4 linked regions of the Homo sapiens genome follow. The protein of the gene in region 4 purifies or fractionates together with the protein of the main gene of each other region. This does not show direct contact. Each region holds a gene or a part of one and is shown on either strand. Other genes may lie near its edges.

What was found.
Region 1: the proteins of ZBTB46 (region 4) and FBXL17 purify together in Homo sapiens (affinity purification with mass spectrometry; 3 studies listed by BioGRID and IntAct, with this or other methods). This does not show direct contact.
Region 2: the proteins of ZBTB46 (region 4) and AP2A2 purify together in Homo sapiens (affinity purification with mass spectrometry; 3 studies listed by BioGRID and IntAct, with this or other methods). This does not show direct contact.
Region 3: the proteins of ZBTB46 (region 4) and EHMT1 purify together in Homo sapiens (affinity purification with mass spectrometry; 3 studies listed by BioGRID and IntAct, with this or other methods). This does not show direct contact.

Annotation. Positions count from the first base shown.
Region 1 is NC_000005.10:108,358,085-108,365,109, forward strand, and holds part of FBXL17 (F-box/LRR-repeat protein 17), read right to left. Parts: intron 6,912-7,025; coding exon 6,654-6,911; intron 1-6,653. UniProt on the Homo sapiens protein: Substrate-recognition component of the SCF(FBXL17) E3 ubiquitin ligase complex, a key component of a quality control pathway required to ensure functional dimerization of BTB domain-containing proteins (dimerization quality control, DQC).
Region 2 is NC_000011.10:928,857-935,881, reverse strand, and holds part of AP2A2 (AP-2 complex subunit alpha-2), read right to left. Parts: intron 2,358-7,025; exon of another isoform or gene 2,285-2,357; intron 1-2,284. UniProt on the Homo sapiens protein: Component of the adaptor protein complex 2 (AP-2). Adaptor protein complexes function in protein transport via transport vesicles in different membrane traffic pathways.
Region 3 is NC_000009.12:137,614,856-137,622,012, forward strand, and holds the start of EHMT1 (histone-lysine N-methyltransferase EHMT1), read left to right. Parts: upstream 1-4,149; 5' UTR 4,150-4,173; coding exon 4,174-4,194; intron 4,195-7,157. Other genes in the region: ARRDC1 (arrestin domain-containing protein 1), read left to right, coding at 1-237. UniProt on the Homo sapiens protein: Histone methyltransferase that specifically mono- and dimethylates 'Lys-9' of histone H3 (H3K9me1 and H3K9me2, respectively) in euchromatin.
Region 4 is NC_000020.11:63,744,261-63,751,285, reverse strand, and holds part of ZBTB46 (zinc finger and BTB domain-containing protein 46), read left to right. Parts: intron 1-3,984; coding exon 3,985-4,356; 3' UTR 4,357-7,025. UniProt on the Homo sapiens protein: Functions as a transcriptional repressor for PRDM1.

The sequences.
Region 1 (7,025 bases), on a different chromosome or scaffold from region 4:
TCTCTGGGGTTTTCTATTCATAAAATAATGTCATCTTCGAATACAAATAGTTTTACTTCTTCCTTTCCAATTTGGAAGCATTTTATTTCTTTTTCTTGCCAAATTGCTCCTTAGAACTTTCAGCACAATGTAAAACAGGATTGCCAAAAGCAGGCATTCTTGTCTTATTCTTGATCTTAAGGAAAAAGTTTTCCACCTTTTATCACTGAATATGTCAGCTGTGGGTTTGTCACATATGGTCTTTATTATGATGAGGAAGCATCACTCTATTCCTAGTTTGATAGGTTTTTGTTTTGCTTTGCTTTTTCAAGAAAGGCTGCTTATTTCACCAAATGCTTTTGCACACCAATTAAGATGACTGGTTTTTTTTTCCTTTCATTCTCTTAATGTGGTATATTACATTGATTGATATTTGTATGTTGAGCCACCCTTGTACTCCTTGGATAAATCATAGTAGGTTACGGTGTAGAATCCTTTTAATCTGGTGCTGAATTCAGTTTGCTAGCATTTTGAAGATTTTTACATACTCGTTAAAGATACTTGTCTGTAGCTGTTGTTTGTTTTGTAGTTTCATTTTTGTAGGGTCTTGGGCTGGCTAATGCTAGCCCCACAGAATAAGTTAAGAAGTGTTGCCTCCTCTTCAATTTTTTTGAAAGAGTTTGAGAAGGACTGGTGTTAATTCTTCTTTAAATATTTGAAAACATTCACCATCAAAGCTATGGTCCTTAGTCTTTCTTCATTGGAAATTTTTTTAACTGATTCAATCTCCTTATTTATTATAAATATATTCCAATTTTCTACCTTTTTCTTTTTTTGTTAAGAGATGGGGTCTTGCTATATTGCCCTAGCTGGAGTGCAGTGAATATAGCTTCAGCCTCCTGGGCTCAAGCAATCCTCCTGCCTCAGGCTCATGAGTAGCTGGAACTCAGAATTTCTACTTCTTGGGTCAGTTTTTCTGGTTTCTGTATTTCTAGAAATTTTTCCATTTCTTCTAGCCTATCCAATTTGTTGGTATGCAGTTATTCATGGTTTTCTCATACAATCCTTTTTAATTTCTATAAAGTCAGTAGTAATGTCTACTCTTTCATTTATGATTTAATAATTTGAGTCTTTTTTCTTAGTCAATCTAGTTAAAGGTTTGTCAGAGTTTTTTAAAATCTTTTCGAAGAACCTAGTTTGGTTTTCAATAATTTTTTTCCATAGCTTTTCTGTCCTCTATCATGTTTATCTCTGGTCTGGTTATTATTTCCTTCCCTCCACGAACTTTGGGTTTAGCCTGCTCTTCTTTCTCAAGGTGTACGCTTTGATTACTGCTTTCAGATCTTCTTTTTTAATGTAAGATTGTACAGCTATAAACTGCCCTCTGAGCACTGCTTTTGCTACATCCCTTGAGTTTTGGAACGCTGTGTTTTCATTCTCACTCATCTCAAGATATTTTCTAATTTCCCTTGTAATTTCTTCTATAAGCCATTGGTTGTACAAGACTCTGTTATTTAATTTCTACATATCTGTGTATTTTCCAATTTTCCTTCTATTATTGATTTCCAGATTCATTCCATTATGGTTAGGGAAGACACACTGTATGATTTCAATCTTTTTTAAATGTATAAAACTTGTTTTGTGATCAAACATATGGTCTATCTGTGAGACTGTTCCATGTGCACTTGAGAAGAATGTGTATTCTTTTGTTGTTGAGTGTACTGTACATATCTGCTAGGTGCAGTGGGTTCATGGTACTGTTCATCCTCTGCTTCTTTGTTAATCTTCTTCCTAGTTGTGCTATTCATTATTGAAAGTGAATTACTTAAGTCTCAAATGATTAATGTACAACTGTCTATTCCTCTCTCCAAGTCTTTCAATTTTTGCTATATATATTTTAAGGATTCTGTTGTTAGGTACATATGTGGTTATAATTGCTACATCTTCCTGAAAGATTAATATTTTATATTTATCAATATATAATAATTCTGTCTCTTGGATCCCTTTTGGACTTAAAACCTGGTTTTTTTGGATAATAAAACAGCTATTATAGCTCTCTTCTGGTGTGGAATATCTTTTTCCATCCTTTCAACCTCTATGTAGTTACTTTCATCAGTTTTCTTTATTCTTCATATGGCTTTCAATTACCATCTAGCATCTTATTTCAGCCTGGAGGACTCCCGTTAGCATTTCTTGTAGGGCAGATCTATTAGTAACAAACTCCTTTAGCTTTTGCTTATCTGGAAATATCTTAATGTCCCCTTGAGTGCCCCTATTCTTTAACAGTTTTGACAAATACAGAATTCTTGCTTGACTTTTTTTTCTTTCGACACTTTAAATATTGTTAGCCCACAGCTTTCTGGCTTCCATAGTTTCTGATGATAAAACAGTTGTAAATCTTATTGAGGAGTGCTTGTATGTGATGAGTCACTTATCTTTTGCTGCTTTGAAGATTCTGTCTTTGACTTCTGACAATTATACTATAATGTGTCTCAGTGTATATCTCTTTGACATTATCCTCCCTGAATTTATTGAGTTTCTTGGACGTATAGATGCGTATCTTCCACCAAATTTCGGAAGTTTGGGCCATTATTTCTGCAAATATTCTTCCTGCCCCTTTTATTTCTCCTTTCCTTCTGGAATTAGCAAAATGTGAATGTTTTTCTGCTTGATGGATGTCCCACCCATCTCTTAGGCTCTACTTACTTTTCTTCACTCTTTTTTCTTTCTCTTTCTTAGACTCAATAAATTCAATTGTCCTATCTTCTTTCTTCCACCTGCTCACTTCGGCTCTTGAATCCCTCTGGTAAATGTTTTATTTCAGTTATTGTACTTCTTAGCTCCAGAATTTCTATTTGGTTCTTTCCATAATTTCTAGCTCTTCATTGACATTCTCAATTTGTTCATACATTATTTTCCTAATTTCCTTCATTTCTTTGGCCATGGTTTCCTTTATGTCTTTGAGCATATTTCAGATAATGGATTTAAAATCTTTAGTAAAATCTTTAGTAAATCCAATGTCCAGGCTTCCTCAAGAATGGGTTCTATTTATTCTTTTTTGTTTTAATGGGTAATACTTTTTTCTTTGCATGCCTTGTAATTTATTGTTGAAAACTAAATATTAAAATATTAGATTATAATGTGGTAACTTGGGAAATTAGATTCTCCCCACTTCCCTACGCTTCACTATTTTTGATTAATCAAGGCTTAGCTTGTGTTCAGCCAGTGTTTTGAAAGAGATTTCCTTGGATGCCAAAGCTTAAAAACAAAACTAAAACAAAAAACAAAAGCACTTATTCAAGTCTTTGCAGACTGGCTCTGTGCTGGGATATTTCTTTAAGACTTAGCCATACCATTCACAACTCTGCCTTGGCCTTTACTTCCTGCTTGTACTGGACCTAGCAAGCACACAGTGATAAAGTTTACAGTCTTCTTAGGTCGTTCCTGAACAAGTGTCCTGCCCTGGGCATGCATGCGGCTTTCAAAATTCCCTTCTATACACTGAGGCTGATTGTCCTAATTTCAAAACAAAAACAAAAATAAAAACAAACTCTCTCCCAGGCTCTTTCTCCTAGGTCAATTGTATGTCTCACCATAATCTATTGCCCAAAGAAGCTTGCTCAAAAGCAAGTTTCTTTCATTTGCCTTATACTGTGTTCAATCAATGCCCACTAATTTTCCTCCCTGACTGGGTTCTAAATTAGGTAAAACAGATATATAAGCACCTGCATCAGCCCTTCAAATAGCTCTCAGGTAGGTTGATCAGACAAATGAATAATTTGCAAATAAGGTCTGCTCTGTTCCCTCTGGAACCAGGGATCTGGGTCCCACACTGGGAACTCGGACTGCTATCTTCAAGACTGTTGCCAAGCTGGGGAATGGGTGAGGCACAGGCAAGTAAAAAACCCACAAAGCATTCTTTCCACCTTTCAGTTGCATTTTTCTTGTCTAGCATTCCTTTGGTTGCTATAAACCTTTGACGTTTCCAGAGTTCTGACAAAGTTGGATCTGATAGTTTAGGCTTGTTTTTCAATGTTTTTTTGGAGAGGCAGGCTTTTGGAGCTGCCTGCTCCAACATTTTGCTGATAGTACTCTAAGTAGTTATTTTTAAAGACCTAAAAATTGATAGCATAGCCAGATCAAAATTTACTAATGTAACATTTATTATTTTTGTACCATTTTATCTGAAAAAAGCCTACAGTGACTTATTTACAGAAATTTCTACTGAGCTCCATGAGCTGGAGTGTTAAACTGCTAAAACTGCATATAATTGAGTCACATAATATAGTAACAATGCATACAATTTCTTAGATATATTTTAATACTTTGACTACTATTATCGTTTGTTTACTGGCAAGTGCTAGATGATAACAAAATATTAGGAAAATTGAAACAGCCCTTTATTCTTAAATAGATTTTTCCTCTAGATACATGATTGTAGTTTTAAAAGATATATACAATAGGAACACATTCCACTGGTAAAATTATTTTGAGTGACTATTATGAAAATAAAAATATAAATATTTCAGGGTGGTATTTCACAAAGAGGATAGTATTCAACCAAAACCAGCCTGATTTTTTTAGGTGCTTCACCATGCTTAAGAAATATTGTTAAGCAGAATCCAATAGTTAAAACATTAGAGTCTACATCTATTAGAGCTCCAAATTGAAATGCTATAAGCAACTGTTTTTGTAAACAAACTGACAGAATTCAAAAGGCACACATATTTGGTATCCGCTAAAGTCAATCAAAATTATAGCAGTTATAAAGAAAATATATTCTAAAGAAATTATCAATAAAATTTACATATATCATTCTAAAACATTTCTCAATTTTTACTGACAGAAGAGGGAAAAAACAGAACCCTGCAACAACTTAATCTGTAGAATCAACAATTCAGTCAATTGCTAAATTAATGAGTTCAAGAAAAAATAACAGTCCCAGGCAAATCATCAATTATGGCTAGTTCCCTCTTAGGCTTTCGTAACTCTATTATACATTTTAACATAGCACTGTCAGTTTACTAAAACCATAATATAAATCCATATTCGGATTTATGAAATATCACTAGGTCATAAAATTAATTTAGTGAGTGGGTCAAGGCCAACATTTAACATAATAGTATAGAACAGAATAGATAATATCCATGTGCATTGCACATAAGGATGTGTATTGTTTCATAAAACTTAATTTCTATTTTATGTATATATGAAAGCCATTCTCTTTCTACTATACCCATAACACTATTCCATCAGAGGAAAGAGTCTATTATGAAATCAGACATACCCAGCTATAGCGGTCTTAAGTACAGAAAAATATTCTCTACACTGCAATGAGATCCTATGTAATTACTTAAGAAGAAAACTACCTAAGGGGAAAAAAATTTGTTTTGCTACTTTTATCAGAATATTACCTCACGTGTAACTAATTCATAATTCAGAAACCATAAATATCCGAAGGAAACATCTAAGTAACAGGCTCCAAAATACCTCACATTCTAGAGAAGATTTACATAATTACTCTCAAAGTTGTAAATATAAGATAAATTCATAATACTTGATTAGCATATTAAATGTTGCTCCTTCTCTACTTCAACCATGACTACGATCTTATTCTTTTTCACAAAAATTACTAGGTATACCCTAAGAAGTCTGCTAAACTACTACCTATTTGTGTTATATCAGAATTAAATATGAAATAGATTTAATCCAGTTCTTAATACATACACCTTTTTAAAATGTTTCATTGTGAAAAATAAATTGCTGAGAAATTTCCATCAAAGTAAATAAAATCATGCTATATACACAAAATATATATTTCTTCATAAAAGATTAATTTAATATGTTTAAGAACTTCATGAAATGCTTTGCTAGTAAATAATCCTGTACATAGCAGAAATGAATCAAGAAAAATATTAAAACAAATAAGACTTTTTGCACAATATGCCTTTGCAAACAAAATAGGCTCCCTTATAAGTTGGTAACATTCTTAATATATAAGTTGTACTGACACACCCAGTACTCACTATTTAGGATAGAGTCTTCCCAAATTTCTTTTCATACCAAGCTTTCAGTTAATTCATACATAAGGTTTAAATTTAAGGATATTCATCTGTTGAATAAATAATCCACTCCGAGCCAAGAAACCTTAAATGCCATTTCCAAAGGAAGTATAATAAACAGAAGGTATGCATAATACTATTTTTAACCCAGTTATTGTACCAAATAGAGGTAATTAGGCCTTTGTTCTAACTTTTATAATCTTCAATTTGGACGTCCATTTATCCCTTAAACATTCAGATATTTAAGCATGTATGTCATCTAGTATAATAAAAGGGGAATTAAAATGTTAATTTTTAAAACCTCATGCTGACCAAAACTACGCAGTTGCCCAAAGCAAAATGTGGTAAAAAATTTAAGTAACAAAAGCATAAATTTATAAAATGGCTGGTCACAGAAGTTCAGGCTCTCACTATAAAACAAAGCAGTTAATTTACTGATTATAACCATGGCACTCTAGTTAACTAATCTAAACAAATATTCATTAATAGGTAAAAAAGATGATTCACTTGAGTCTCTGGGAACTATTTTTAACGTAACCATTTAAAATGTTGTTGCTAGAAAACATTTTTAATTAATTCAAGTAAAATCACTTTATAAATGCTAAAATTTACCTGCTTGAGTCCTTCATCAGTGAGTTTGTCCTGGTTGCCTACATGCACTTTCTGAAGTAAAGGACAGTGAGAGGCAACCGCAATAATAGAGGTGTCAGAAAGCTGTTTACACCTGTAGGCTGTATACCTAAGAAGTCCAGGACATTTAAATGCTAAAACACATACGCCATTATCAGACATACTGCGACAATCAGAAATGTTGATTTCAATTATATTCTGACTTCTTGATGCAATTTTTTCCAACAATTCATCAGTGACCTGTAAGAGAAAAAGCAATAAATTTAAACTTTTGCTAAAAATAAAAACGTATTTTCCATTTTTTAATTAAATGTTCCACAATAAACAATATACTAATTAGATTATAGCATGAAC
Region 2 (7,025 bases), on a different chromosome or scaffold from region 4:
GGCTCACGCCTGTAATTCCCAGCACTTTGGGAGGCCAAGGCGGGTGGATCACGAGGTCGGGAGTTCAAGACCAGCCTGGCCAAGATGGTGAAACTCCGTCTCTACTAAAAATACAAAAAATTAGCCAGGTGCCTGCAATCCCAGCTACTCAGGACGCTGAGACAGAGAATTGTTTGAACCCGGGAGGCGAAGGTTGCAGTAAGCCGAGATCACACCACTGCACTCTAGCCTGGGCAACACAGCGAGACTCTATCTCAAAAAAAAAAAAAAAAAAAAAACTGGCCGGGCACAGTGGCTCACACTTGTAATCTCAACACTTTGGGGGCCCAAGGCAGGCGCATCACTTGAGGTCAGGAGTTCAAGACCAGCCTGGCCAACACGGCGAAACTCTGTCTCTACTAAAAATTCAAAACCGCCCAGGCACAGTGGCTCATGCCTGTAATCCCAGCACTTTGAGAGGCCGAGGTGGGTGGATTGCTTGAGGTCAGGAGTTTGAGAATAGCCTGGCCAAAATGGTGAAACCCCAGCTGGGCGCGGTGGCTCACACCTGTAATCCCAGCATTTTGGGAGGCCGAGGCTAGCGGATCACAAGGTCAAGAGATCAAGACCATTCTGGTCAACATGGTGAAAGTCCGTCTCTACTAAAAAAAATACAAAAATTAGCCGGGCATGGTGGTGCGCGCATCTGTAGTCCAAGCTGCTCGGGAGGCTGAGGCAGGAGAATCACTTGAACCTGGGAGGCAGAGGTTGCAGTGAGCAGAGATCGCACCACTGCACTCTAGCCTGGCAACAGAGGAAGACTCAGTCTCAAAAAAAAAAAAATGGTGAAACCCCATCTCTACCAAAAATACAAAAATTAGCCGGGCATGGTGGTGCGCTCCTGTAATCCCAGCTACTCCGGAGGCTGAGGCAGGAGAATCGCTTGAACCCAGGAGACAGAGGCTGCGGTTAACCAAGATTGCGCCACTGCACTCCAGCCTGGGTGAGAGAATGAGACTCCATCTCCAAAAAAAAAAAAGAAAAGAAAAGAAACACGTACTTGCTATTTCAGCTACATTACATGAAACACAAAGGCGGTCCACAGAAAAAGCAAAACATAAATCCTAATACAGTGCCGCCTGCCCTAAGGAGCTCAAAGTTCTTTAGATATGCTAAATAACTAATCCTCATTACACCCTTGTGCTGCCATCAGAGGGATTTTAAAGGTAAGAAAAACACCCCACAACGCAAAAACAAAAGCCAGGCACCCCATGTTGGCTGTTGGTCTCTACACTTCTAAGCAAACCCGTAGACAGACACCAAAGCTTAGGGTGGGTGAGAAGAAAGGTAAATGGGGAGTATCCTGAAGCCAAGCACAGAGATGAACACAAAACCATCACAACTCGGAGTCTGAATTTCAGGCAAAGATGAAGACTCCAGGCTCTCGACAGGGCTACAATTTGAAAAGGTGGGAAAGGGCTGGGCGCAGTGGCTCACACCTATAAATCCCAGCACTCTGGGAGGCTGATGGGGGAGGATCACTTGAGCCAAGGAGTTCAAGACCATCCTGGGCAACATAGTGAGACCCTGTCTCTAAATTTTAAATATAAATATAAAAAATTTAAAAGTGGGAAACAAAGGAGAGTAGAATCAGGATCTGACCCAAACCCCCGGCTAGAAGTGTTATTCCTAAGAACGCACCCAGCAGGAGGTCTGCCACTCGACCTGGAGTTTCGACCTGGAGTTTCCTGAGGTATCGGGGTGGGGGCGCTGAGGGAGCTACATGGGGCAGAAAGAACCTAGCATGGGAGTCAGGACTTCCCTGGCCTCAGGGACACACAGCAGCTGTGGGCACAGCACTCCTCCTAAAATCCCGGAGCACCCACCAGCCCCTCAGCCCACCCCTGGCACCCTGTGCTCCTGCCACCTTCCCAGCCTGCTGAAGCCTTGATACCCCCAACCATTCCCACACTCCAATCACCAGGTAAGGGGAAGTGCAGGCTCCAAAAGGCAACAAACGTTTAAAATCGAGAATCAACTGAACAGAAGATACAAGTTCCCCTCTGCCAACAATGTTTCAGGAAAAAGCGTGCAAAGCTGGCAGAAAGTCATGTCTGAATACAGAAGCATGGTTCCAAGCTCCCTGTGTCTCTGGGGTCATCCCCGCTCCTGAGTGCCCACGAGTCACTGGAACTCGCCTCTCCCACCCTGGTGCTGGGCATCTCACTGCCTCACACTCTTCTTGGTCCTCTTCCCAATTCAAGTCTCCAGGGCGCTATTTAAAATAGGGCTGCTTCCTACTCACATGCTATTTCTTCTATGCGTCTTGGCCAGACCCTTACAACCCTGTCCCAAGCACAGAGCTCATCTTACCACACAGCTTCAGCCCCCACTTCTACACGGGAACACCCACCTCAACCTATCCCACCCACCCGGAAATTCTCTCGTGACAAAACTGCACATACTGCTTTTCAAGACGTTTCAACCAGCTCAGCTTTCAAGCTAAAGTCAGGAAGGTTCTGAAGAAGGAACATGCTGCCAGAATCAGCAAATGTGGTTTTATAATCTAAGTCTGGGACATCATGTGGCCTGGTAAAAACTGTTCATTTCTGGGGTTTTTTGTTTGTTTGTTTTTGAGACGGAGTCTTACTTTGTCGCCCTGGCTATAGTGCAGTGGCGCAATCTTGGCTTACTGCAACCTCCGCCTCCCAAATTCAAGTGATTCTCCTGCCTCAGCCTCCCAAGTACCTGGGATTACAGACACGTGCCACCACACCTGGCTAATTTTGTATTTTTAGTAGAGACATGTTTTTCCATGTTGGTCAGGCTGGTCTCGAACTCCCGACCTCAGGTGATCCACCTGGCTCGGACTCCCGAAGTGCTGGGATTACAGGCGTGAACCGCAGCGCCCGGCGTATTTGATTTTTTTAAGAGCCAAGGAAATGCCATTTAATCCTTCACTGACAGCCTTTCCAGGAACTCTTCTACTACAAAATCTTGACACAGATTGTTACCAAAAGTAACAGTTCATTTTAAGAGGAAAGAGAAGTAATAGTAAGTATCTGGCACAAAATATGTTCACCACCAGGACACTTCAACTTGTCATAAAAGAAAGTGATCCTGACCTTCAGAGGAGCCAGACGGAAAACACTGTGAAGAGAACCAGGGTGTCCCAGAAGCAGTGACCACCAACCTTGGCAAGAAAAATTCAACCCGAGCAAGGACTTCCTTCCTTCTCTCCATAGCCACCATGACACATTTCCTAAACTGGTTTCTAAGGAACACACATTATGCAGAAGCATGCAAAAGAAGACATGCAAGGAGAGCATTCTTTTCTAAGAGTCAGCACTTTTTAGGAATGTACAGTCAAAAGGACAAAATGAGCTTTTAACTGTGAAGGTTATTTAAGAAATGCAAAAGCAGACTGACCAATTCTGATGCTGATCTTCACTCGTCTGCACGAAAATCAGTATAACTTTATGTTTAATTTTTATACTGAAGTTTAAGCAGAGTTTAAAATTTAGTGTTCAGTTTCTCCATATCTAATTTATGACTCCATAACTGGAATTGCATGAACAAATAAAATTTAACTTTAGTCCCACTGAAACACAATTCAAAGGGTATCTAATTTCAAGAAAGTTAACAGAAATGGCCAGGCACAGGGGCTCACGCCTGTAATCCCAGCACTTTGGGAGGCCGAGGCAGGTGGATCACTTGAGGCCAAGAGTTCGAGACCAGCCTGACCAACTTGGTGAAACCACGTCTCCACAAAAATTAGCTAGGCGTGGTGGCAGACACCTGTAATCCCAGCTACTCGGGAGACTGAGGCACAAGAATCACTTGAACCTGGCCGGGCGTGGTGGCTCACGAGGTCAGGAGATCGAGATCATCCTGGCTAATACAGTGAAACCCTGTCTCTACTAAAAAATACAAAAAATTAGCCGGGCGTGGTGGTGGCGGAGCCCCAGCTACTCAGGAGGCTGAGGCACAAGAATCACTTGGACCCAGGAGGCAGAGGTTGCAGTGAGCCGAGATCACACCGCTGCACTCCAGCCTGGGTGACAGAGGGAGACTCTGCCTCAAAAAAAAAAAAAAAAAAACAAGAAATGGAAGGGACCAAGTTTTATGCCAACCACAATGAGCAGAGCACTGATAATTTTTCTAATTTATCGTGAAACCTGCAGCAAAACTGTATCACTTTCTTCAAGACCATGGAAATTCATTTTTGCCATCTTGCTAATAACATCTCTCCATCTGTTTCCCCTTCATGTGAGGACCTGGGGGGGTTAAAGAAAACGCCTCCAAGCATCTGCACCACACCAGCACCACATGTAGAGAAATAAAAATGGTCATTTCCTGCCTGAAGTTGTTTTCCTGGCAAACTGACCGGTCTCAAAAGGACTTATCACTTCTTCCCTTTCCTTGCAGTCCTGATTGTTTTGCAGTCAATTCTCAGAGCCTGACAACATTTTCAGCAGTGCTGTGTCTCTCCAACAATATTCTAGTGTTGGCATGTCAACAGCAATGCATAAAGACATGCATTCACTAAGTTAGATACAACTCTCCTCTGCAGATATGTCATTTGTGTAAAAACAAACGAAAGTTCCAAAATAACTGAATAAATAGCAAATAATTATGGTCTTGTTTCCCCAATTTCAGCAGTTATTTTGTTTTCTCGGTATCTTTTGCTCAAATACAATGTCAATCAATGCACCAGCCTGAATGGACCTCGATGGGACTGTACTGAGGGGGAAAAAAGCAATCTCAAAAGATCACATATGATGTGATTCCCTTTATATGACATCCTTGAGCCCACAAAATTACAGAGATGGAGAACAGATTAGTTTCAGGAGTATGGCTATAAGGGGTAGCTTTGTGATGATGGTATAGTTCTGTATCTTGACTGAGGTAGGGAACCGGTTACACAAAGCTACAGGTGCTAAACTGCATAGAACCACACACACACACGTGCATGTCGATCTAACGAAATCTGAATATGCCTGGTGGTGTGTACCAGTGTCTGTTTCCTGGTGTTGAATATGTCCTGTAGTTATGCAAGATGTCCACATTAAGAAAGGTAGGGCACCAGGCACAGTGGCTCACGCCTGTAATCCCAGCACTTTGGGAGGCCGAGGCCGGTGGATCACGAGGTCAGGAGACCGAGACCATCCTGGCTAACACGGTGAAACCCCGTCTCTACTAAAAATACAAAAAATTAGCCGGGCGTGGTGGCGTGCACCTGTAGTCCCAGCTACTCGGGAGGCTGAGGCAGCAGAATGGTGTGAACCCGGGAGGCGGAGCTTGCAGTGAGCCGAGATCGCGCCACTGCACTCCAGCCTGGGCGACAGAGCGCAACTCCGTCTCAAAAAAAAAAAAATTCTAAAACTGGGACTAAATAAAAGGACTAGAATTTTTTTAATGCCAATTTAAAAAAAAAGAAACAGTTTATTAACTCTCACACACTGAATGCATGCTGACCAAATGCAGTGGCCGCTGGGTTGACGTCAATCAGAAAGGATGAAGTTAATTTTAGGAGACATTAAGTTAGTTCACTACCTGAGCCACAAAAGCTACAACTTTGAGGGGCAGAGCTTGACACGAGGCACCTTTTCAAATCCTGGAGCATATTCATTGCTGCCTATGCTAAGAGGAGTAATGCCCCAAGCCAGTCTGCTGGGAGTGGGTTACTTGAAGTGAAAACAGAGCATCCTAGTGTCCACATGCTCCCTGTCCGCTACCTCAGATACTTGGCACAGGGCTTTTTTTTTTTTTTTTTTTTTTTGAGACAGAGTCTCGCTCTGTCACCCAGGCTGGAGTGCAATGGCACAATCTCAGCTCACTGCAAGCTCCGCCTCCTGGGTTCAAGCGATTCTTCCGCCTCAGCCCCCGGAGTAGCTGGGACTACAGGTGCATGCCACCACGCCCAGCTAATGTTTGTATTTTTGTGGAAACAGTGTTTCCCTATGTTGGCTAGGCTGGTCTTGAACTCCTGACCTCAGGTGATCCGCCCACCTCAGCCTCCCAAAGTGCTGGGATTACAAGCGTGAGCCACCGCACCCGGCTGGCACCAGGTCTTGGAGGGGAAAAACTTTTTTTTTGAGGCAGGGTCTCAATCTGCTCCTCAGGCTGCCCAGGCTGGAGTGCAGTGGCGCAATCCGAGTTCATGGCAGCCTCAACCTCCAGGGCTCAGACAATGCTCTCACCTCAGCCCACTGAGTAACTGGGACCACAGGTGCGTGCCACCACGCCTGGCTAATTCTTTTTTCTCTTTTGAAAAGACAGGGGTCTCACTATATTGCCCAGGCTAAAGGAGGAAAACTTAAGAAACTGGTCAGAAAGACGCAAATTTGGAGCTGAAACAGGCTTTAACGATATTTCAGCTCAAAATCCGCCCCTTCAAGCGTCAGCTGAGGAAACTGAGGCTCCGTGGCTAGTGGCCTCCACTCACGCAGCTTTAATGATATTTCAGCTGAAAATCCAGCCCTTCAACTGTCCGCTGTGGAAACTGAGGCTCCATGGCCAGTGGCCTCCACTCATGCAGCTGCTAAGAGGCAGAGTCAGGGTCAAGAGCCTTGGCTGTTGGCTCAGAGTCCTCTTTCCACAGGGCCCGACTACTCCTATCATTCACTCTCATGACAGGAAAACAGCACACAAAATCAGAGCTGGCCAGGGAAAGGGGAAGCGGGGACCCCTCTGCCTGTGACATGGAGGTCAAGTTCAGATCAGCTCAAACCCTGGCTGGCTCTCCAATCCCGTCTCCAGGCACCAGCCAACATTCATTAACTCAATACGTATATACATTAATTATTTGCTGTTCCTCTAATACCTTCTTGGTCTTCTGCCTGAATTGCCCAAGAATCACCTTCCTTGTGAGGTCTTCTCTGGCATGCACCTCGCATGCCAGACGCTCGCCATGAGGAGAACAGCAGGAAAAATGTGATGAGCAAGATAGGGTGCGCACCTTGTAGAGGCCACCCTAGAGGGCAGTGGGGGAGATGGGGCCACTCAGGTGAAAAGCAGCACCACAAGCTGAAGACACTGCCCAG
Region 3 (7,157 bases), on a different chromosome or scaffold from region 4:
CCTGCCTCACACCCGCTGCACCCTCCCTTGTGCATTTCAACAGGTGCCACTGTCCCCTACTTTGCAGAGGGCTCCGGGGGGCCAGTGCCCACTACCAGCACCTTGATTCTTCCTCCAGAGTACAGTTCTTGGGGCTACCCCTATGGTGAGTCGACAGCCAGGGCTTGGCAGGGAGGGGACGCCAAGAGCCCCACGCAGACCCTGCTTTCTTCCCGCAGAGGCCCCACCGTCTTATGAGCAGAGCTGCGGCGGCGTGGAACCCAGCCTGACCCCTGAGAGCTGACCCCGTGCTGCCTTCTCCAGGCAGGCCTGGCCTCTGCCCTGGGACTGGGGCGCCCAGGGCCTCGTGCCTTCTCTCTTGGCCTAGCCTGGCCCACTCAGGACCTGCCCAGCCTCTGCCAGCTCCTCTGGCATCCGCCCTCTTCTCCCTGGGGCTGGGGTGGGGGTGGCAGGGAGCTGGGACCTGGAGAGACAACTCCTGTAAATAAAACACTTTATTTGTAGAGCTGGGCCTCACCGGCCTCGCCTTGGGCACCCTCCAGCCTCTGGCAGGGCCTGACCCTGACCCCATCCTGGGCTCTGCTCATGCCAGGGCAGACCCTGCTCCTCAGGTGCCCCCTACTACCCTGGGGGCGCGCTCAGGCTACCATGCCTGGGCGGAGCCGCGGGGCTGGCTCCCTTTAACAGAGGACGGGGGCTGGCGCTGGGCCTTCCAGAGCCGCCTAAGGACACGTCCTTGGAGCCCGGCTCATGAAATGGGGCCTCACGCAACCTTGGTGTTTGGTTAAATTTGTGCCTTGGCTCCTGTTGCGTTTAGGCACCCAGGTTCCCAAGCGGTGTGGTGTGGACCTCCCCTGCTGAGAAACCCGCTGGCGCGTGGAGGGGCTTGCCCAGGTCCCTCCGACAGGAGACCCTGCTCCCTGGGCCTTGGCCCCTGCTAGCACCACTGCCAGGCCTGGCTCTGAGGGACGCTGCTTCTCCCCTGCCCACGTCTCCAAGGCCTGAAAGGCAGGGTTCTGTGGAACAGCATTTCTCAAAGGGGCATCCTGCAGACGTTCCAGCCCCAGGGGAGGCCCCGTGATGCTGGCTGGCCTGCCTGGAGGGTGCTTCCAGAAACAACGGAGATGGTGGTGAAGAAGGCTCTGGGTTCAAATTCCAGTTCTCCTTTAGGGCGAAGGGGTGACTGTGGCTAGGTTTGTCAGTTACCTTATCTATAAAATGCACAGGACCAGGCCGGGCACGGTGGCTCCCTCCTGTAATCCCAGTACTTTGGGAGGCTGAGGCAGGTGGATTGCTTGAGGTCAGGAGTTCCAGATCAGCCTGGGCAACATAGTGAAACTCCATCTGTACAAAAAAAAAAAAAAAAAAAAAATAGCTGGGCATCATGGCACATGCTTGTAATCCCAATTACTCAGGAGGCTGAGGCAGGAGAATCGCTTGAACCCAGGTGGCAGAGGTTACAGTGATCTGAGATTGTGCCACTGTACTCCGGCCTGGGTGACAGAGCAAGACTGCCTCAAAAAATAAAAAAACAAAACCCCACAAAAAACTCGTGGGACTGTAGGGTACAGCCCCCCACCCTCATAGCATGACAGTTTATTTCTTGAACAGTCCAGAGGGGGCAGATCCTGGCCTTGTGGCAGAGTTGTCATTCCTACATAGTGGTTCCCATCCCTGGCTCCCAGATGGCTGTTGACAGCTTTCACCACTGCCCAGCCTAATGGTGGGACTTTTGAGGGACAGACTGGGAAATGGATTGTCACTTTTTGTCTCTGACCTGTCCCCTTCCTGTTGGAAATGTGGTCTTTAGCCAGGCAGTCCTGTACTTGGCTAAAATTTTACTAATTGTGGGACAGGCAGCATGAATATTGGAGAACAGCAGAAAGTGTACCACAGGTGGGGTCATCTGTGAAGCGCCTCCTGGAAGCAGTGCAGTATATGGTTGAAAGGAAGGCCTCCTGGGCTGAATCCCATCACTGCCTCTCACCACTCCCTTGCTTCAGTTCAGTCACTTATAAAATGTGGGTAAGAACAGTGCCTGCCTCTCAGGACTGACCTGAAGTCTGCAGTGTTAGCATGTCACGTGCTGAGAGCAGCATCTTGACATAAGTGCTGAGGGGCACACAAGGGTAGCAGCTGATGGAAAAATGGAGTGAAAAAGCTGCCTGCAGCTGCTTCCCACACCTTCACTTAGGGTGGATGTTTGCTTGGTGAAGGATTTTTCTTCACATTCTAACTCCCTTTATTCAGTCAACAATTTTTTTGTTGTTGTTGTTGAGACAGAGTCTTGCTCTGTTGCCCAGGCTGGAGTGCAGTGGCACAATCTCAGCTCATTGCAAGCTCTGCCTCCCGGGTTCATGCCATTCTCCTGCCTCAGCCTCCCGAGTAGCTGGGACTACAGGCGCCCAGCACCACTCCCGGCTATTTTTTGTATTTTTAGTAGAGATGGGGTTTCACCATGTTAGCCAGGCTGGTCTCCATCTCCTGACCTCATGATCTGCCCACCTCGGCCTCCCAAAGTGCTGGGATTACAGGCGTGAGCCACCGCACCCGGCCCAGTCAACAAATATTTTGTCTCCTGTACACCAGGTATTGTTCTAGGCACCATGGACTTACATTCTAGTAGGGAGACAATATTCCAAATCAGGATGTGGGAGAGTCACATGACACACACTGTGATGGAGCCAAGTAAGTCAACGAAGACAGGTATGGGGGGGCAGTATCATTTTAACTAGGGAGGAGAGGGAAGGCTTCCCTTAAGAGGTGATATTTCAACTCAAGGATGGTAAAGAGGGAAGCCACAAAGACACTCGAAATAAAGGTTTCAGGGAAGGGACAGACAGCAGGGGTGGCGGAGAGGTGGGTGCGGGGCAGGAGGGCCATGAAGGCGCTCGTGTCTCCTGCGAGGGCTCAGGGTGCTCGGCCTGTCATAAATGGACTTAGGCTTTGACAGAGCAGTTTAGCTGCCCTAAAGAAACCTGGGAAGGTTCCCTTGGCACTTGGGATTGTCCGTTTCCTTTTCTGTCTATGTGCGCTGTCTATGCTGGACTTGAGATAATTCTCCGGAGTCCGACTCACCAGGAGACTCGGGTGTCACCCAGATTGACCTTCAAGGCTCATTTCTTGTCAGTCCAGTACCCGTCCCCTCGGTTCACACGACCATCCAGAAACCTCAAATTCAGTCCATGCTTCTTGTTTTGGGTCTCGGGGCTGGGATAAGGCGGGCTGACCACCGCGGGGCATGTAGGTAGTTTCCGTGGTGCTGGGGGCGCTCTCCAGGGAAGGCTACTTGGTCTGCAGAAAAGGCCTTGACTTGTGCATACCTGGGCAGCGGGCCTATGAGTGGCAGCGAGAGCGGGGTAACCAGAGAGGGCACACCCCCCAACCGGAGCGCCCCCCAGGTTGGCATCTCCACAACTGTAGAACCTCCCCCATCAGGGCAACCCTCCCGATTGGGACACCGCCCCCAGCCAGACACATCCTCCTAGCAGAACACCCATGCTTAGCCGGAGCCGCTCCCCCGCCAGACACCTCCCCACCGGGAAACCCTCCCCAGTGGGACACCCCAGCCAGTCCAGGTATTCCCGCCGTTAGGGACACCCCCTCCAGCCGGAGCATACCCTCGGCAGGGGCATTCCTCCCAACCGAGGGAACCCCGCCGCAACGGGAACCTGCCTGAACCAGAGCACCCTCCCGCGCCGGGGACACCCCACAGGCGGCTCCCGCGCCAGGCCGCGGCCCAGGGAGTCAGCCTTCCGCGCAAGCCGGCGAAATCAAAGTGCGTCCGGGGTTAGAGGTCAGAGGTCGGAGCCGCGGGTCTTTCTCCTTCTTCGGCCAGCCCACCAAAACGTCAATTTAGAATGAGACATGTGTTGAAAATGGGACGGCTACTCCCCATCCACTACTACGACTCTGGCGGGCGGGTTCTCCAGCTCCAGGTCTCCTACCCCGCGGGCGCGCGTTCCGGTTCCGGCCGCCGCAGGCCCGGCGCCTGGGGCGCCGCACGCCTGGTTCCAGTGCGCAGGCGCCGCACCGGTCGAGCTCCAACGCGCAGGCGCGGGCGCAGGCGCAGGCGCAGACGTAGGCGATCGGCCCCGCCCCGACTCTGGGCCGCGAGGCGCGGGCGGGGCGATGGCGCGCGGGAGGGGCGGGGCCACGCTGCGGGCCCGGGCCATGGCCGCCGCCGATGCCGAGGTGAGCAGCGGGGCCGGCGGGGGGCGGCGCGGGGGCGGCGGGCAGCGGCGGAGGCGGCGCGGGGGCGAAGAACCGGGCGGGGCGGCGGCAGGCGGCCGGCGGGCGGGCGGGGCCCCGGGTCCCCCCGCCGCCGCCGCCGCCGCTGCCGCCGCCTCAGGCCGAGGCCGGGCCGAGGCCGCCGGGCGTCCGGCCCGCGCTCCCGCCGGGCGCGCTTTGTGCGCGGCGCGGGCCGGGCGGCGGCTGGGGGAGCGGGCGGGGGCGCAGGTGAGGGAGGCGACCGCGTACCTGTGCCCGCGCCCCCCACGGACCCCGTGCCGCCGCCGCCGCCCGCAAGCCGGATCTGCGGGGAGGGCCTCGGCCAGGGTGCCGGGGAGGTGCGGAGGACAAAAGGAAAAGTAGCGGGGCCGGCCAACTTTGGAGCGCCGGCCGAGGCGAGGCTGTCCCTCCTCTCGGAGCTCTTCCTTCGCTTCGTTGACCTTTCACTTTGTTCTGAGTAGGATGGCACCATCTTTAACGAAAAGTTGGCCAGTCCCGGCGTGTTTCTCCCCAGACAATGCTGCTCCAGCCCTGCTGGCTGTCAGAAGCAGGAAAGCACGCTCGGTGGGAAGCTTGCGGACTCAAGTTTATTTCCAAACCAGCAGCTTTAAAGGGCTCTCGATGTAAAAAGTTCACATTCTTTTGTTAATGGTCTCGGCCTTCCCCGTGCTCATTCTCAAGGATAGTTTGTTTCCTTGCTTAGGAAAGGAAGCAGCGTAGAGATTAAAGTCTTGCGAGTGGACCACTGGCGTCCCTCTGAAGGAAAAGCAAGCAGGAGGTGGTGTGTCCGTGGAGATGCAGAAATAGTGTGGTCCTAGGGCTGAGATAAGGGACCGGTTTGGAGAAAACTGTCAGCGTAGAAGTATTTCTTTGAAATTAACTGTCTAGTAACAGTTGAGACTTCTAAAGCTTAGAAAGTTAAGGTGTAGTAAGAAGCCGTACAGTATCCTGGTGCATAGACTTAACACTGTATTTTAACTCAGGTAATGTATGGCCTTTTTGTTTATTTTTTTCCTGCATTTTTGGGGGGTGTTGAAATAAGTAAACTGGGAAGGTGCAGGGGAATTCTTAAATTCAATGCAAGGAGTTTTTGCTGAGTATCTGCAGCATTCAAGGAATTAATATTAGTCACTGAGAACAAAAAGCGAAATTAGAAAATTTCAAGTCACTTCTAGGCTTGTAGGGGAGAAGACGTGTAGTGATGAATTCTATCATTTATGAAGTACCCACTGGATCCCACACACTGTGCAAGACCTTTAGATCAGGCGCCTCCCTCGGTTTTCTTCACCCTGTGCAGCAGGTGCTGTTATTTCCTTTTTTAAATTATTATTTATTATTATTATTTTTTGAGACAGGATCTCCCTTTGTCACTCAGGCTGGAATGCAGAGGCATGATCACTGCTCACTGCAGCTTCGACCACCCAGGCTCAAAGGAGTCTCCCACCTCGGGTGCTGCCACACCTGGCCAATTTTTTTGTATTTTTTTGGTAGAGACCGGGGTTTCACCATGTTGCCCAGGCTGGTCTTGAACTTTTGGACTCCAGCGATCTGCCTGCCTCCGCCTCCCTAAGTGCTAGGATTACAGACATGAGCCATTGTGCCCGTCCTGTTGTTTCCTGTTTAGCTGAGGAGGAAGGGTTAGATAACTTGGCCAGTCGGTTGTAGGACCAGCACTAGTACAGTGTTGGGCACGTAGTAGGTGTTTAATACATGACCGATGAGCAAATGGCTCCAGATGTCTCTGGTTCCATAGGCAGCCTTGAATAGGGCTTTACACACCTGATGAGAATGACAGCCTGTGTTGACTGAGCCCTGACTTGTGTCCAACCCTGCCATAGTGCCAGTGCCTTGCATGAATTCAATAATTTGAGCCTAGCAGCAACCTTAAGAGGTAGGTACTGTTACCTCCCCGTTTATAAATGAGAAGACAGGCGCAGTGAGGCCCAAGATTGAAGAGCTTGTGGCCAAGAAGATGGAGTTGCAGGTGGTTTGGCCATAGAGCTGATGCTTGCTAAATGTGTTATATCTGTGATGGTCATTTTAGGTTAATAAAAGCTCTGTTTTTAGATTGATAATTCTAAGGGTTTATCATCAAGGTGTATGAGAAGGTGAGGGAGCCCCTGTGTGTAGCGCAGCAACTCTGGCCTTCTGGACAGTAGGTAGGCATGTGATCACTGTTGTCACTAAACCTGGGAAATGATTCCTGGGTCAGGGTTCATTAATTGCCAAATGATTAAAGTAATAAAGCTGACACTGGAAACTTATCTAACTTCATTTCTTTTCCTTGATTTACAAAGATAGTCAATACATTTTCCTACCAAAAAGAACTGGCCAGCCGTGGTGGCTCATGCCTGTAATCCTAGCAGTTTAGGAAGCCGAGGTGGGCGGATCACTTGAGGTCAGGAGTTCGAGACCAGTCTGGCCAACATGGTTGAAACCCTGTCTCTACTGAAAATACAAAAATTATCTGGGCATAGTGGTGTGTGCCTGTAATTGCAGCCTGGGCAACGGAGTGAGAGACTGTCTCAGGAAAAAAAAAAGAAAAAAAACTACTGAGGTAGTTGAATATATCCTCCATTCCCCATTTGTGGATTAGTTAGTAAATGGGGCATCTTAGGGTTTAAATATGTCCAGGGTCACTGAGGATCAGATCCTAGGGTTCCTTTGACTCAAGGCTTTTGTCTCAGCAAAACGTCACCTTCCAGCAGGAAGGCTTTCTCAGGCAAGTAGCAGGGTGGCTACTATGTATCGCTTCTTTATTTTTTCTTTTTTAAAATAATGCAGGCACGTGCGCATAATTTAAAAAATCAGTGCTAAAACCCTTAAAAAAAAAAGCTGTTCTCATCTCCTGTCTTTCTTTTTTTTTTCTTTTTATTTTTTTCTTTTATTATTATTATACTTTAAGTTTTAGGGTACATGTGCACAAC
Region 4 (7,025 bases):
ACGAGATGGCAGGTCTGCAAGGCCAGAAGCAGACCCACATCCACGCGGAGCCGCCGGGGCCCCAGCCTTGTTTTCCGTAGCGGAGGATGTGCTTCTGTTCACACAGGCCACAGGGCTGATCTTACAAACCACTTATAAAAAGCCGCGGGGGCGGGGGGAGGGGTAGCTGCACCAGGCCGACATGTTTCCTATTCAGAGAAAATCGCATCTTGTTTTTTAAACTGATAGGTGCTAACACGTTTTAACAACATGGATTGCAACGTCTTTCTTCAGCAAATCCGTATTAACCTCTCAGTAAACGTTTTGATCCTGTTTGAGGTTCAGTGTGGCTGCCTGTTCCTTCTCGTTGGATAGGGTTAGGGTTTGTTTTTTTGTTTTTTTTTTGAGACAGGGTTTCACTGTGTTACCCAGGCTGGAGTGCAGTGGCGTGACACAGCTCACTACAACTTTGACCTCCCGGGCTCAAGCGATCCTCCCACCTCAGCCTCCCAAGTAGCTGGGACTACAGGTGTGCACCAACATGCTCAGCTAATTTTTGCGTTTTGTGGTGATGGGATTTCGCTGTGTTGCCCAGGCTAGTCCCGAACTCCTGGCCTCAAGTGAGCCACTTGCCTCTGCTTCCCAAAGTGCTGGGATTACAGGTGTGAGCCACTGTGTCCGACCAGGGCTGGGATTTTTGTCCTGGGGTTCATGATTGGGCTTCAGGGGGTCATAATTCCCTGGAAAATGTACTTATAACATATGGAAAGCCAAGTGTGGTGGCACATGCCTGTAATCCTAGCACTTCGGGAGGCTGGGGCAGGAGAATAGCTTGAGGCCAGGAGTTTGAGACCAGCCTGGGCAAAATTGCGAGACTCTGTCTCTACAAAAAATTAAAAAAAAAAAAAAGTTAGCCAAGTGTGGTCCCAGCTACTTGAGAGGCTGAGGCAGGACGATCACCTGAGCCCAGTGAGGTCCAGGCTGCAGTGAGCTGTGATTGCACCACTGCACTCCAGCCTGGGCAACAGAGTGAGACCCTGTCTCTAAAGAACAACAAACACAAGCAAGCATATGGGGCTTGACTTTTTCTGAGGAGAGGCTCTGTGTGTGGCCTTCTCTGGGGTCCTGGACCTGAGAGCGTGGAGACCCGAGTGTGAGACAGCAGCTCTAGCCGGTCCAGCCTCCACTTTCACGATGGCACTTACGAGCACTGTCAGCCCTTCCCTGGCCTGGGTGGCCCCTCCACCCGCTCCAGGAAGAGCACCAGTGGCTGGGGCAGGGCCCCCCATGCCTTGGCAGGGCCACATTTGGAGGGTGGGCCAGCCGTGCTCTTGCAGCCACAGTGCCCCAGAGCCTGGGCGGGCTGCCAAGGTGTCCCGTCTTCCTTCTTGCTTCCTTCCAGGGCATTTGCCCATTTGCATGAGTTCCCAGCCATCCAGCCCTGGCCACATGGTCCCTGTGCCACCCCAAGCTGCCCCTGCTGCCTCCTCAGGTGCCCTGGCCCCTGCACACATGGGAGCCTAGGCCTCAAGGGGCCTCAGTGTTTTTCACTAGCCCCGCTCCAACCCTTCCTGGGCCTGTGTGCACCAGGTTACTGTGCTGGGAAGTTTCTACTGTGGCTTGTCTTGAATTTTTGTTCTGGAAGTCCTTGGTTTAAAATACAGCAAAACAGGCTGGGCGCGGTGGCTGACGCCTGTAATCCCAGCACTTTGGGAGGCCAAGGCGGGCAGATCACGAGGTCAGGAGATCGAGACCATCCTGGCTAACACGGTGAAACCCCGTCTCTACTAAAAATACAAAAAATTAGCTGGGCGTGGTGGCGGGTGCCTGTAGTCCCAGCTACTTGGGAGGCTGAGGCAGGAGAATGGTATGAACCCGGGAGGCGGAGCTGGCAGTGAGCCGAGATGGCAACACTACACTCCAGCCTGGGTGACAGAGCGAGACTCTGTTTCAAAAAAATAAATAAATAAAATACAGCAAAACAAAAGCCCAAAGGAGCAGTTCTGGCACCAAGTTGTCTGAGGCTCTGTTTCTAGGGTTAGCGTGTTTGGGCATCTGAGGTGTGCTGTGTGGTGCTGCCCTGGCCCTGAAAGCCACCAGCTGCCCCTGAAGGTCTCACATCCCTGGACAGCGCCCATCCCGGTCCAGGCTTAGAGCTCACACAGTTGCTCTGGAAGCAGACATTTGAGAAGTGAGGTCTTTATGGTTCCCGGCTTTGTGGAAGAAGTTACAGGCACCTCTGCCCTCAAGGAAGCGGGTCTAGAAGGGGAGGTCGGGCCGTGCTGGGTGGCCTGTCGGCCTGTGGATTCGGAACACTGAGGCAGGAAGTACGTAAGGGCCCGGGTCCAGCCCCAGGATGGGGAGGTGGTAGCTGTGGTGCCTGCCCGTCAGAGGTCTTTGCAAGTGTAGCAGGACCGTCTTCCGCCATGACACACATTGATTATGTATGTACTTGCTCATGGGAGAAAACTGGTGAGTTTGGAATGGTTTAAGGAAGAGCTAAACTCACAAGCACATCCCAGCCTCAGTTCTCCGTGCAGCCTCAGAGGTGCTGCAGGCCCCGGGAGACAGCCCTGTGGATGGAGGGAGGAGCCGAGGGGAGCCTGGGGTCATTGCCGGGTTCAGCCTGGAGGACTGACCTGAGGCCAGCCCACCTCAGAGAAGCCCCTCGTGTGGACTTGGCCAGGGGCCAGGGGTTGCTATTGGGGTCCTCTGTGGGTCCTGCCCTCTCGGTCCTTGGAGGGCAGAGACAGGGGCTGTGCTGTGAGGGATCAGGGCCAGCCCCCCAAGGCCTCCTCTAGCTGGCGTGGCCGAGGGTGCCCGTGAGTGGGTACAAGGGCCACCTCTCCCCATCCCTGGCCATGTCTGAGGTCTGGTTCTGCACAGCACAGGTGTCCACACCCACCCTCAGCGGAAGCCCACCTGGGGCCACATGTCCCCAGCAGTGTGTGGTAGTTCCCTCAGGCCTTGAGGCCAGTGCTGAGACCCTCCAGGAACCCAGCACCTCGCGTCCTGCCACATGGGCCCTCTTCAGGGTGCTGCCCCATCTCCCTGCCGGGCCCAGCACAGGGCACAGCACGACTGCCCTCCCTGGCAGCCACACCTCCTCCTCTGACCATAAGTGCTCATCTCTCTTCTTGCATGTCTCAGTCGACCTTGAAACAGCCTGAGAGTGGGGGAGTTGCCTCCTTTACACGTTCCTGGAGTCAGGGTCGGGCTGAGGGGTCAGGGACTGAGGGGGTCAGGGGCTGAGGGGGTGTCCACGCAGCCAGGCTGAGGTGTGGGCCCACCTGCCCGGCTGGCAGCCCCAACCCCGGCCCGTCCCTGTACGGCTGGGTACAGGAAGAGCTCTGTGAGCTCCAGTCCAATGCGGGGCCCTCAGCCTGTCCTGCAGGGAGGTTTGGAGGAAGCCAGGCTTTTAGGCAGAGGCCGGTGGTGTGACCCCCGTGAGAAGTGTGTCAACCCAGGGGGCCTCTGGTGGGGGTGCTTGGACACACAGTGTAGACGCTGAGACTGGCCCACCTAGGGGCTGGGTTTGCGGGGGAGGGGCACTGCCGCCCTCGTGCCAGCATCCCCTTGGGACAGGGCTGCCTTGGTGCCACCTGCAGTTCTGCTGTGTGGCTCTGATAGGAGCTGGGGCTCAAGGTCTGAGCACTCCTGTCTGCGCACCTCCCCCACCAGGAGTCTCTGCCTGTGCAGACACTCGGAGGGCCCGGGAGGCTGTGCCCCCCCAACCCCAACCGGGCCCTGCTCACCCCCGCACCCCCCCCACCCACCAGGCCCTGCTCACCCCCTGGCCCCCCTCCCAACCTCCACCGGGCCCTGCTCACCCCCTGCCCCGCCCCCCCCACCTCCACCAGGCCCTGCTCACCCCCTGCCCCCTCTTCCAACCTCCACCTGGCCCTGCTCACCACCTGCCCCCCCCACCTCCACCAGGCCCTGCTCACCCCCTGCCCCGCCCCCCAACCCACCAGGCCCTGCTCACCCCCTGCCCTGCCTCTGCAGGTCCACAGCAAGGACAAGAAGTATGTGTGCAAGGTGTGCAGCCGCGTCTTCATGTCCGCCGCCAGCGTGGGCATCAGGCATGGCTCCAGGCGCCACGGTGTGTGCACCGACTGTGCTGGCCGCGGCATGGCCGGGCCCCTGGACCATGGCGGCGGAGGCGGCGAGGGCTCTCCAGAGGCGCTGTTCCCAGGCGACGGGCCCTATCTGGAGGACCCTGAGGACCCACGAGGGGAGGCGGAGGAGCTGGGCGAGGACGACGAGGGCCTGGCCCCTGAGGATGCGCTGTTGGCGGACGACAAGGATGAGGAAGACTCGCCGCGGCCGCGCAGCCCCCCAGGAGGCCCTGACAAGGACTTCGCCTGGCTCTCCTAGGCCCGCCCGCCGGCAGGGTCGGTGGCTGCCTCGCTCCGTCCACCCGTGTGTGTGTCCGGTGGGTCTCCACTGCGGGGCCAGGGCCACGCTCACCCCTCTCGCGGCCCCTCCTCTGCTTCCCCCTGAACCCACCCCCCACGGAAACCAGCCCTGCGGGCTAAGCAGGTGCGACCCCAGCAAGAGGGGTGCTCTGGGACCAGACATGAAGTGAGTTGGGGGAGGGCACAGGGTGGGTTTGAGTGAAGGGAGAGCACGGTCCTAAGTCCCCAGCAGGTGGTGCGGGTGTGTGAGTGGCCCCTGTGATGGCCAGCCTGGCTTGGACACGTGATGGGCCTGTGGCCGGGTCCAGTGGGCACTGGGCGGGGTGGTGTGTTCGGCCCAGAGGCCCCTGGCCTGAGCAGGTGCAGAGTTTTACAGACACCCGGTCAGCCCGGCTGGAGCCCGCCCTCCCCTCCCCTAGCAGCCAGGTCACTGCCTGTGGCTGCAGCCGTGGCCCGTGGTGCAGCCGTGGCCCATGGCAGCCTGTAGAATCCAGGTGCACAGAGAGCCCTGCCACCGTCTTACCTCTGGGCTTTGGTGCTTAACACACAACACAGCTGCAGACCCTGCTGGAGGCCGAGGGCTCCAGGTGCTATCTTAGGTGGACACAGCCCTGGGGGCTCCTTCCAGGAGGGGACCCTCAGCCCTGTGCCCCCCACCACTTCAGGCCACACCAGGTTCCCTCTGCAAGGGCCTCGGCTCAGTCGTGTGCACTTCCTCGGAGAGCCTTGGGCTGCCACGTCCACCCCGGGCTCTGCCCGTCCTGTTCTGCCCATGGCCCAGCCCGGCCGCTCCTGCTGACCCCTCCTGGACGGGCTGGAGCTGGGCTCCTGCCTTTGCTGCTAACACTGGAGGCGGTGTTCCTAACTGCAGTGTGCTGCTTACACCTCCCCGCGTGGGTAACCAAATTTTTAAGTAGTCAGAGACATATCGAGGTAGTTACATAAAATTATTTTGTTTGGCATTATTTTTCTCACTCGAAGAAACTATATAGGGTTGTTTTTCCTTTAGCTTGTGCTCAAGTCCTCTTGCTGTGTTTTCAGAAGCACTCACATGTTCTTTCTTTTCCTGAGTGAAAAGCAAAGGTCCCACGGTGTGTGCTGTGGTGCACCGCCTGGCTTTGGGGGTCCCGGAGGCAGGCTGCCTAGACTCACAGCCTCGGGACCGTTGCCACGGCCTGTCTTCTCGTTCAGGCCTGCCTCTGACAGCACTCACCATGAGGACATTCCATCCTTCACCCCCTCCTCTGGCACAGGCCACCACTGCGGTGCTGTGCCTTCAGATGGGAGGTGGGCGCGGTGGCCTCCTCCTTCCCTCCAGGACCTGCCCGTGTGAAGACCCCCCGGAGTGCTGAGCTTCAGGGCTGCGTGGAAAGAGTTTTTACTCTCTTTTTCTAGCCTGTATACCAGGCTTTTCCCCACATTGTCAGGTAGAGCACCAGCTTCCCTGACCGCTGCTGCTCGGGGAGGGCTGGGGCTGGCCGGGGGTCCTGTGGAGGAGTACATGGAGGACTCCAGGTACAGCGCAGGAGTCACGGCTTTTGTTTTTTGACATTGGCCCCCGGTTCTACCAATGACAGGGTGCCCTGGCTGGAGCTGTCATCACACACACCCCTCAGCTCGGAGGCTGTGGGCTCCTCAAAGCTGGAGAAAGAGGCCAAGATTTTTCTGCACACGGAGTGTGGGGATAGGAGCCGGGCCAAGCGCTGGCCCCTCAGCGGTGAGCCCTGCCCACTCTTACCGAGCAAGGTGGGTGGCTCTGGCACGAGTCCCCCAGGGGGAGAGCATGGCTACCAGGGAGCTGCAGCGGAGCCCTCCAGCCCTCACCCCAGGCCAGCCCCACCCCGGCCTCTTTGAGAATTCTCAGAACTTTGTACCTTTCCCCTGATTTTTAAACCCTTTTTCTAAACAGACTGACTTTCTTACAAAATGCATTTGGAAACCAGACCTTTGCTACCCACCAATGTCTCTGGGTTTTGTACCAGTCCCTGCTCTCAGGCCACCCTGCCCAGGACCCAGGCCCGCCTCCCCCTCCACACTCAGGATGTCCTGCTCCATCTGGCCGGCTCACTCCGTGTGGCCTGCCTTTGCTGACCGTTTTGGGGTTCCCCGCCGGAGCTACAGGGGCATTTTCTTCCCTAAAACCAACAGTGTCCCACTGACCTCCCCAAGTGTTTGCTGCGTGGCAGATTTCCTGTTCTTGTTCGCAGTTTGCCGACTGAAGAGTGTGGGATTTCCGAGGCCCAGGTGAGCACGTCCATCTCAGGAGGCGTGGAGGGAAAAGACATGTCATGAAGGGTTTTTTTTATGTGACTGATTTTTTTTTAAATCGATGTTCAAACTAATAAATATTTTTTTATGAAGAGGAAAAATGTGTAGATTACATTTCACATTTTGTATTTTTGTTTGTGTCTGTTTGTATTTTGGTGTTTACAACACCAAAGTGGGAAATACAGTCCATTGGGGATGGTGTTATTTGGGGGCGGGGAGGGGGCAGGGACACCACGATTTTTCTGTCAAGCTCTGGATCCTGACCAGGTTGTACACTGGGGCTCTCTGAGCTTTGGGACACAGGACACTGCCAGGGCTACGTAGGGAACTGACTCAGAAGACGCAGCTTACTGCTTCCAA